Linked DNA regions of Homo sapiens: region 2 is linked to region 1. Evidence: fine-mapped expression QTL. A gene starts in region 1. The other region holds a variant in brackets. All regions are shown on one strand. Distances are between the middles of the regions.

What was found. PIP is the estimated chance that this variant, and not a neighbour inherited with it, causes the effect.
Region 2: its variant is fine-mapped to the expression of KRT18 in esophagus mucosa (GTEx, PIP 0.98).

Annotation. Positions count from the first base shown.
Region 1 is chr12:52,946,022-52,951,392 of GRCh38, forward strand. KRT18 (keratin 18) reads left to right here and starts at 3,097. Exons shown (of 7, transcript NM_000224.3): 1 at 3,097-3,569; 2 at 4,307-4,389; 3 at 4,729-4,885. The coding sequence starts at 3,153. It also overlaps a transcript of KRT8 not described here. RefSeq lists enhancers at 2,429-2,803, 2,492-3,085, 3,086-3,679, 3,503-4,702, 3,614-4,268 and 2 more, silencers at 1,064-1,358, 1,744-2,038, 2,796-2,915, 2,926-3,005, 3,046-3,095 and 3 more, promoters at 2,685-2,764, 2,685-2,695, 2,773-2,855, 3,065-3,126 and a cis regulatory region at 2,773-2,855.
Region 2 is chr12:52,991,913-52,997,283 of GRCh38, forward strand. No RefSeq gene overlaps it. Among named protein-coding and RNA genes, the nearest start is that of EIF4B, 12 kb to the right of the region's middle. The variant C/T (reference allele first, on the strand shown) is at 2,652.

The DNA.
Region 1 (5,371 bases):
GGAAGCCCGAGGTCGGTATTTGCCCCATGCTGCAAGAAGTCAGGAATGTGGCCATCGACATCAGTAGGAGAGATAAAGTCTAGCTGGCAGCTCTCCCTCTCCAGCCCCCACGCTGCACCTCCACAGGTCCCAGAAGTTTCCTAGCAGTTGGGGTGGGGCAGGAATCAGACAAGGACCTGGGAATTAGCTTGGAGAAAAATTCTAGAATCTGTTTTGATTGCTGGTAGATTTCAAAGTGCCCCAGGGTTTTTAAATGACTCAGAGAGACAGACTTCAAACCCCTTGAGCCCGTCTTTCGAATTAAATTGACCCCCTTTATCTGCCCTCCTGTATATATTGAAGCCTTCCTTACTTTGAAGGAAGGCTCCAGTACAAATAATTAGTATTTGTTTGATGAATGAGTGAGTGACAATTTACACTCACATTCACTGCCACCTGAGGAAATAGACTGGACAGGTCTTACTGTTTTCCCTGTACAAGTGAAGAAATTGAAGTTCAGAGTTAGGTGACTTCCCCAAGGTTACACAGCTAGCAAAGTATCCAGGCTGGCTGACTTAAAGCTTAGCAATAACAGTAAAAGGCAGTACGTAGCTTGTTGACTCCACATACTTTATTATAAAATACTGCCCAACTTGACAGTTCTGGAATCCAGTGGGGGAATATAAAGGTGAAAGCAGGAGAGACCCCTCTGACTGGAACCTCTTACCTCCCAGAAGCCTTGTATGCAAAACCAGTGGGCATTCATTTGTATGTTATTTTGCATCCCGTTTGCCTCCCAGCCTTCAGCAGGCCCCGACCCTCCCCTGGCCAGCTTCCACCCTGACTGCCCCCTGGCTGGCTCCCATTGAGCACTGTGGGGCTCTCCCCACCATTAGGTGACAGATCAGGAACAATCCAGGCTCAGGCTCTTTATCTGTGCTCTGCCTCCCACCTGGCAGGTCCACTGGCCAGGCTTTTCCAGGGTCCCTTCTCTCCCAGGTCTGCCCTACTATTTGTCCTCCCCTTCCCCCTCAGCTGGTAGCTCGATAAGAATCAATAGGTCCACTCCAGAGCAAAGAACACAGCCAAATGTGTCATACCAGGCCCTGCCAGAAAAACGAGCTGCTGGAGCTGACAAACTTGAAGGCCAAACACCTAAGGGTTCCCCCCAACACTTCATTCAGCAGGGATGGTCATTCAGCTTCAGGGGGCAGGCAGCATGAAAGCCTCCCTACCTCCATCCTTCTCACACAGAGGCTGGGGAGAGCATCTTGGAGGATGCAGTCCCCTGGGGCCAGGCTTCTAATCCAGACAGCCCTTACAAGGGGGGACAGGGGAAGGACTGGCTTGGAGAAAAGTCCTAGAAAAGAGGGGAGGGGCACTGGCCACCAGGGCTGGGTCGCTGCTATGATGGTCCTAGGAGTGCCTGCCTGTCCTCTCAGGCCCCATGCGATGTAGGACACATTACTTTTATTTATTTATTTATTTATTTATTTTGAGTCAGAGTTTCGCTCTGGTTGCCCAGGCTGGAGCGCGACGGCACGATCTTGGCTCACTGCAACCTCTGCCTCCTGGGTTCAAGCGATTCTCCTGCCTCAGCCTCCTGAGTAGCTGGGATTACAGGCACACACTGTGCCTGGTTAATTTTTGTATTTTTAGTAGAGAAGGGGTGTCACCATGTTGGTCAGGCTGGTCTCAAATTTTTTTTTTTTTTTTTTTTTTTTGAGACAGAGTCTTGCTCTGTTGTCTAGGCTGGAGTGCAGTGGCATCGAACTCTTGACCTCAAGTGATCCACCCGCCTCGGCCTCCCAAAGTGCTTGGATTACAGGCATGAGCCACTGTGCCCGGCGATGTGGGACACATTATCATCTCTGTGAGAGATTTTTGGTCTCTTTTGTCACCGCCCTTCTCTCCCAGCTCCTAGAACTGGGCCTGGCTCACAGTAGGTGCTGAATGCATACTGGTTGAATTGTAAATGCTCAGGATTTGTTTAATTAAGGATGCAGGAAAGGTGATATACCGGTGTGCAGAAGTCAGGATGCATTCCCTGTCCAAATCACAGTGTTCCACTGAGGCAAGGCCCTTGGGAGTGAGGTCGGGAGAGGGGAGGGTGGTGGAGGGGGCTCAGAGACTGGGTTTGTTTTGGGGAGTCTGCACCTATTTGCTGAGTGAATGTATGTGTGTGTGCATTTGAGAGCACACCTCTGTATGATTCGGGTGTGAGTGTGTGTGAGGAAACGTGGGCAGGCGAGGAGTGTTTGGGAGCCAGGTGCAGCTGGGGTGTGAGTGTGTAAGCAAGCAGCTATGAGGCTGGGCATTGCTTCTCCTCCTCTTCTCCAGCTCCCAGCCTTTCTTCCCCGGGACTCCTGGGGCTCCAGGATGCCCCCAAGATCCCCTCCACAAGTGGATAATTTGGGCTGCAGGTTAAGGACAGCTAGAGGGACTCACAGGCCATTCCACCCGCACACCACCAGACCCCCAAATTTCTTTTTTCTTTTTTTTTTTTTTTTTTTTTGAGACAGAGTCTCACTCTGTCGCCAGGCTGCAGTGGCGCGATCTCGGCTCACTGCAACCTCCGCCTCCCAGGTTCAAGCGATTCCCCTTCCTCAGCCTCCCAAGTAGCTGAGACTACAGGCGTGCACCATCACGTCCGGCTAATTTTTTGTATTTTAGTAGAGAGGGGGTTTCACCATGTTGGCTAGGATGGTCTCGATCTCCTGACCTCGTGATCCGCCCACCTAGGCCTCCCAAAGTGCTGAGATTACAGGCGTGAGCCACTGCGCCCGGTCAAGACTCCCAAATTTCAAACTCGCCAGCACCTCCTCCACCTGGGGGAGAAGAGCATAATAACGTCATTTCCTGCCCTGAAAGCAGCCTCGAGGGCCAACAACACCTGCTGTCCGTGTCCATGCCCGGTTGGCCACCCCGTTTCTGGGGGGTGAGCGGGGCTTGGCAGGGCTGCGCGGAGGGCGCGGGGGTGGGGCCCGGGGCGGAGCGGCCCGGGGCGGAGGGCGCGGGCTCCGAGCCGTCCACCTGTGGCTCCGGCTTCCGAAGCGGCTCCGGGGCGGGGGCGGGGCCTCACTCTGCGATATAACTCGGGTCGCGCGGCTCGCGCAGGCCGCCACCGTCGTCCGCAAAGCCTGAGTCCTGTCCTTTCTCTCTCCCCGGACAGCATGAGCTTCACCACTCGCTCCACCTTCTCCACCAACTACCGGTCCCTGGGCTCTGTCCAGGCGCCCAGCTACGGCGCCCGGCCGGTCAGCAGCGCGGCCAGCGTCTATGCAGGCGCTGGGGGCTCTGGTTCCCGGATCTCCGTGTCCCGCTCCACCAGCTTCAGGGGCGGCATGGGGTCCGGGGGCCTGGCCACCGGGATAGCCGGGGGTCTGGCAGGAATGGGAGGCATCCAGAACGAGAAGGAGACCATGCAAAGCCTGAACGACCGCCTGGCCTCTTACCTGGACAGAGTGAGGAGCCTGGAGACCGAGAACCGGAGGCTGGAGAGCAAAATCCGGGAGCACTTGGAGAAGAAGGGACCCCAGGTCAGAGACTGGAGCCATTACTTCAAGATCATCGAGGACCTGAGGGCTCAGGTAAGGGGTAGGAGGGACCTCAACTCCCAGCCTTGTCTGACCCTCCAATTATACACTCCTTTGCCTCTTTCCGTCATTCCATAACCACCCAACCCCTACTCCACCGGGAGGGGGTTGGGCATACCTGGATTTCCATCCGCGCACCTAGCCACAGGGTCCCTAAGAGCAGCAGCTAGGCATGGGAGGGCTCTTTCCCAGGAGAGAGGGGGAAGGGGACAGGGTTGAGAGCTTTACAGAGGAAGTGGACAGCATGGAGGGAGGTAAGGAAAGGCCTGTAAAGAGGAGGAGACACTGGCTCTGGCGGAATGGGGACTATTGGAGGGTTAAGCGGATGTGGCTAAGGCTGAGTCATCTAGGAGTAAACAAGAGGCCTTCCTTTGGGAGGAGCCAATCCAGGGTGTAGGGGGCCCAGAGTGACCAGGTGCACTAGGGAAAAAATGCCAGGAGAGGGCCAGGAAGAGGACTTGTTAGTAGCGACTCACTTCTGGGCAGGCAGGCCAGCCAGCTAGCCAGCCTGCTGAGGCTTCCCAAGAGGGGCAGAGTGCTGGGATCTGGGAATCCAGGAAAGGAGGGAATGGGGTGGGGCTAGATGAAAAGGGATAGGTGTCCAGGGAGAGCCTCTGGCTATTCCTGGGACCAGGAAGTTTTCACTAGGATACATAACACTTTTTACACACTCACCCCACCCATCCCTGGCTTTCTATTCATGGAACAACCTCTCTCTACAATCCCTCCAGATCTTCGCAAATACTGTGGACAATGCCCGCATCGTTCTGCAGATTGACAATGCCCGTCTTGCTGCTGATGACTTTAGAGTCAAGTAAGTTTGGGGGCTAGAGAGCTGGGGGTCCAGGGGTGGAGCTAAGAAGGATCTGCTCCCCAGGCTGGGTCAGTTAGGGGCTCACAGTGGGATCCTGTTAGGTGTGGGTGGATGAGAGTCAGGGTCCATCAGTGTATTCATTTAACTGTTCATTTGTATAACCCCGTTTAAGAATACTGTCCTCCAAGTGCCAAGAATGGTGCTCAGGGGATTACCACCTAATTGCTGACTCAAGTTGCTGGTTTGCAATGGGCACAGAACTTCTCTTAGTAGGTGGCATGAGTTGAGAAGGTTCTGGATCAGAGATAGGGGCCCCTCTGATCACCTCCACTCCTATAGGTATGAGACAGAGCTGGCCATGCGCCAGTCTGTGGAGAACGACATCCATGGGCTCCGCAAGGTCATTGATGACACCAATATCACACGACTGCAGCTGGAGACAGAGATCGAGGCTCTCAAGGAGGAGCTGCTCTTCATGAAGAAGAACCACGAAGAGGCAAGCAGGGGCCACTGGCCAGGCCAGGGATTGAGGGGCCAAGAGAAGTCTGGGTCGGAGAATAGACAAGACAAACCAACTGCAAGTAGCCTTGCTAAGACGTTTAGAAATAGCAGCCTGGGCTCTTCTTAAATAAGACCGTTCTGATGAAGAGCATTCTCAGGGGGTCGAGTACACCCTGGCTCACCTGAATTACAGGTCAAAATGATATGGGTTAGAAAATGAGATGAGAACAGAAGTAGAAGCAGCTAACACTAGGAGCTGGGGGTGATAAAGGAATGACAGCAGATGGAGTTGGCAGCGCTTCCTAAAAGATGGTAGAAGGAGCAGGTTTGTGAAGGGGAGGGTGGATAAAGGAACAGGGTGAAGTTACAGAGAAACCATCAGTGAGTGGGTGGCATTTCTACCCACTGGAGTAGAAAGGCCAGAACTGGCATTGCCCTGAGTGCAAGCCAAGGGGTTCCTCCTGTCTCTTCTCCAACTGTA
Region 2 (5,371 bases), 46 kb after region 1:
AGGCTGAGGCTAGAGGATTGCTTGAGCCCAGGAGCTCAGCCTGGGCAACATAGCAAGACCCAGCTCTTAAAAAAGAAAAGAAAAGGCCAGGCGCGGTGGCTCACACCTGTAATCCCAGCACTTTGGGAGGCCGAGGCAGGCAGATCACGAGGTCAAGAGATCAAGACCATCCTGGCCGACAAGGTGAAACTCCATCTCTACTAAAAATACAAAAATTACCTGGGCATACTGGCAGGCACCTGTAATCCCAGCTACTTGGGAGGCTGAGGCAGGAGAATCACTTGAACCCGGGAGGCAGAGATTGCAGTGAGCTGAGATCGTGCCACTGCACTCTAGCCTGGCGACACAGCAAGACTCCATCTCAAAAAAAAAAAAAGAAAGAAAGAAAGAAAAAGGAAAGAAGGAGCCATTAGGCCCCTAACAGTGTGTACTTATGCTGTTGGGGGACAGGTAGGACTGACAGCTTAAAGAACATTCTGAGGCTGGGCACGGTGGCTCATGCCTGTAATCCCTGCACTTTGGGAGGCTGAGGTGGGCAGATCACCTGAGGTCAGCAGTTTGAGACCAGCCTGGTCAACATGGCAAAACCCTGTCTGTCTCTACTAAAAATACAAAAATTAGCCGGGCATGGTGGTGGGCACATGTAATGCCAGCTGCTTGGGGGAAGCTGAGGTTTGAGAATCACTTGAACCCAGGAGGTGGAGGTTGCAGTGGGCCGAGATCACGCCACTGCACTCCAGCGTGAGGGATAGAGTGAGACTCTGTCTCAAAAAAAAAAAAAAAAAAGAACATGCTGGGGCTACACTCCAGCATTTAAGCTAAAGCTAGAAATACATGGTTGAAAGGTTGAAGGCATTCACTGAGCTCACCAGGAGCTTTGACACAAAGATAGGGTCTTTGCCCCCATCTGAACAGGAGTGACAACAGAAGCTTTGGGAATTGATAAGTCACTAAGGAAAACAGGGCAGGGCACAAGTTGCAACTGGTGGCCCATGGGCTAAATTGGCCCCAGGTGTGCTTTATTTGGGCTACACAGGGTTGTGATTTTTTGAATTAACTATCCACTTTTAAATGTTGGACTATTTCACCAAAAAAAAATCCATATATCTAGTTTATCTTGAAAAACTGGAAGATCTGGTAACGTTGGGCCCTATTTCAGTTGACAATGAGAGTCAGGGTTGAGTTGTGACTGTCACCTTTAAAGAAAGTACATAGAGTAGGCTAGGCGACAATGACAAAATATCAGCAACTTAACACAATGAAGATTTGTTTCTTGTTCGAGCAAAGTCCAGGGTGAATCAGGCAACTCTCCAGGGTAGCTTTCTTCCTTGCAATGACTCAGGGATCCAGGCTGCACATATCTCATGACTCTGCTATTCCAATTTACGCTCTGGATGATCCCTTCAGGGAGCCGGAGCTGAAGGGCTGCTTTGTGGCACTTACATGCTTCCAACACAAAGTGAAATGGTACTTGAACTAACCGTCCATTTGCTGAAACTAGTCCCAGGACCCTCATCAGGGGCCTGAGAAACGTGGGGCAGCTCATGGATATTGGGTGAGCAGTAAATGTTTCTGCCACATGGAACATGTGCTCTGCAGTTTGCCACATGCTTGCCAGGCTGCTTAAATCATTCACATCATCTACCTGGCTCCTGGAGACACTGGCATTTGCAGCCTTTGGTACAAAAAGAGAGGAGTGCTGAGGAGAGAACCTTGTGGAATGCCACCAGGGAGCAGCCATCACAACAGAACCCTACACTAGCCCAGTGTTTCATGCCAAGGTTCTGTCTGTAAGTGACAGAACCTACCCCTGGGAGGTGACCTGGCTATATCTTTCATATCTCCTGGTCACACTGCTGAGGGGGTGCCTGCTGCTTCTCCACAGATGAAGATTCAAAATGTTCTTGTGTTACAACCTTTGCATATTTCAAATTCCTTAGAGTCAAAAAGGCTATTCTGAATTCTACCTACTTTCCTTCCCCCTATATTGCATTTCTTCTCTTTACTCTTGCTCTGCATAGCTCCTAAAGACTGAACTGGAGCAAAAACCTGCACAGTAGGCTCTGGATAGTACCAGTTCCCATGTAAAATGTTCAGGAAGACCAATTTATGTGATTTTCCTGAAAAGTGTTTGTTTGTTTGTTTGTTTGTTTGTTTGAGACGGAATCTCACTCTGTCGCCCAGGCTGGAGTGCAGTGGCGTGATCTCGGCTCACTGCAAGCTCCAACTCCCGGGTTCACACCAGTCTCCTGCCTCAGCCTCCCGAGTAGCTGGGACTACAGGTGCCCACCACCACACCCAGCCAATTTTTTGTATTTTTAGTAGAGACGGGGTTTCACCGTGTTAGCCAGGATGGTCTCGATCTCCTGACCTCGTGATCCGCCCGCCTTAGCCTCCCAAAGTGCTGGGATTACAGGCGTGAGCCACCGCACCCGGCCTTATTTATTTATTTATTTATTTATTTATTTATTTATTTATTTGAGATGGAGTCTTGCTCTGTCGCCCAGGCTGGTGTGCAGTGGTGCAATCTCGGCTCACTGCAACCTCCACCTCCCGGGTTCAAGAGATTCTCCAGCCTCAGCCTCCTGAGTAGCTGGGACTACAGGCGAGCATCACCATGCCTGGCTAATTTTTGTATTTTTTAGTAAAGA[C/T]GGGGTTTCACCATATTGGCCAGGATGGGCTTGAACTCCTAACCTCATGATCCGCCCACCTTGGCCTCTCAAAGTGCTGGGATTACAGGCATGAGCCACTGCACCCGGTCTTCTTTTTAATTTATTTATTTTTTAACTTTTTTTTTTTTTTTTTTTTGAGATGGAGTCTTACTCTGTCACCCAGGCTGGAGTGCAGTGGAGGAATCTCGGCTCACTGCAACCTCCACCTGCTGGGTTCAAGCAATTCTCCTGCCTCAGCCTCCTGAGTAACTGGGATTACAGGTGCCCGCCACCATGCCCGGATAATTTTTGTATTTTTTCAGCAGAGACGGGGTTTCGCTATGTTGGTCAGGCTAGTCTCGAACTCCTAACCTCATGATCCGCCCACCTTGGCCTCCCAAAGTGCTGGGATTACAGGTGTGAGCCACCACGCCCAGCCTTCTTTTCATTCATTTATTTGTTTGTTTGTTTGTTTGTTTTTGAGACAGGGTCTTCCTGTCACCCAGGTTGGAGTGCAGTGGCAATCACAGCTCAGTGCAATCTCGAACTCCCGGGCTCAAGTGACCCACCCACCTCAGCTTCCTGAGTAGCTGGGACTATGGGCACACACCACCACGCCCAGCTATTTTTTTTTTTTTTTTTTTTTTTTTTGTAGAAATAGGATTTCACCATGTTGCCCATGGCTGGTCTCCAATACCTGGGCTCAAGGGATCATCCTGCCTCGGCCTTCCAAAGTGTTGGGATTATAGGCATGAGCCACCACGCCTGGCCCAGTTCCCACTATGTTTTAGCTATAGTTGTATGTATTACATTTAAATACATTATAATTCCCCAAGACCATGTTCTAATATTTGCTTTTGGCAGTCAAGTGTATTTCAAATAAATTAAGAGGGGCAGGGCATGGTGGTTTATGCCTCTGTAATCCCAACACTTTGGGAGGCCGAGACAAGAGAACTGCTTGAGGCCAGGAGTTCGAGACCACCCTGGGCAACATAGTGAAATCCCAGTCTCTACCAAAAACATATAAAAAATAAAAATAAGCTGAGTGTGGTGGCACACACCTGTAGTCCCAGCTGCCTGGGGGGCTGAGGTAGGAGGATTGCTTGAGCACAGAGATTTAAGGCCACTGCACTCCAGCCTGGGTGACAGAATAAGACCTTGTCTCTTAAAAAAACACAGGGCCAAGCGCAATGGCTCACACCTGTAATCCCAGCACTTTGGGAAGCCGAGGCTTGATCACTCGAGGTCAGGAGTTCGTGACCAGCCTGGCCAACACGGTGAAACCCCATCTCTACTAAAAATAATCTGGGCGTCGTGGTGTGTGTGCCTGTAATCCCAGCTACTCAGGAGGCTGAGGCAGGAGAATCGCTTGAACCTGGGAAATGGAGGTTGTGGTGAGCCAAGATCGTGCCACTGCACTCCAGCCTGGATGACAGAATGAGCTTACAACTCAAAACAAAAAAAAAAAAAAGGCCCACAGAAAAGCAAATATGCGTATTATAGGGTTTTGGGGTTTTTTTGGTTTTTTTTGTTTGTTTGTTTTTGAGACAGAGTTTCACTCCTGTTGCCCAGGCTGGAGTGCAATGGCGTGATCTTGGCTCACTGCAACTTCCGCCTCCTGGGTTCAAAGCAATCCTCCTGTCTCAGCCTCCTGAGTAGATGGGATTAAGGGCGTCTGCCACTACACCCGGCTAACTTTGTATTTTTAGTAGAGATGGGGTTTCTCCATGTTGGTCAGGCTGGTTTTGAACTCCTGACCTCGGGTGATCCATCCGCCTTGGCCTCCTAAAGTGTTGAGATTACAGGCGTGAGCCACCGTGCCCGGCCTGTAGTATTTTTAATAAATAAATCATAAATAAAAATAATTTTGAAAAAGAAATTAAGACGAAAATATGCCTTTTACACTTACCTGGTAACCTACTATATAAATACTCTTTATTCCTTCCTAAATATATGCATTTCCCTCTGGTATCATTTCCCCTTAGTTTGAAGAACTTCCTTTAGTTTGGCTGTAATACAGTTCTTTCTTATCTTTTATTTTTTTGAGACGAGTCTCATTCTGTTGCCCAGGCTTGAGTGCAGTGGCGTGATCTTGGCTCACTGCAACCTCTGCCTCCCAGGTTCAAGGGATTCTCGTGCCTCAGCCTCCTGAGTAGCTGGGACTACAGGTGTGCACCACCACACTCAGCTAATTTTTTGTATTTTCAGTAGGGACGGGGTTGCCTGTTGCCCAGGCTGGTCTCAAACTCCTGAGCTCAGACAGTCTGCCCAACTCAGCCTCCGAAAGTGGTAGGATTACAGGCGTGAGCCACCTTGCCCAGCTGGCTTAAATACAGTCTATTGGCAATGAATTCTTAGTTTTCTTGTATCTGAATATGTGTTTATTTTGCCTACGTTTTTTTAAAAACAGCTTTGAGATACAGTTAACATACCAAACAATCCACCCATTGAAAGTATACAATTGGCCAGGTGTGGTGGCTCACACCTGTAATCCCAGCACTTTGGGAGGCTGAGGTGGGTAGATCACCTGAGATCAGGAGTTCGAGACCAGCCTGGCCAACATGGTGAAACCCCGTCTCTACTAAAAATACAAGTTAGCTAGGCGTGGTAGCCCATGCCTGTAATCCCAGCTACTCAGGAGGCTGAGGCAGAAGAATCGCTTGAACCCAGAAGGTGGAGGTTGCAGTGAGTCAAGATCGCACCATTGCACTCCAGCCTGG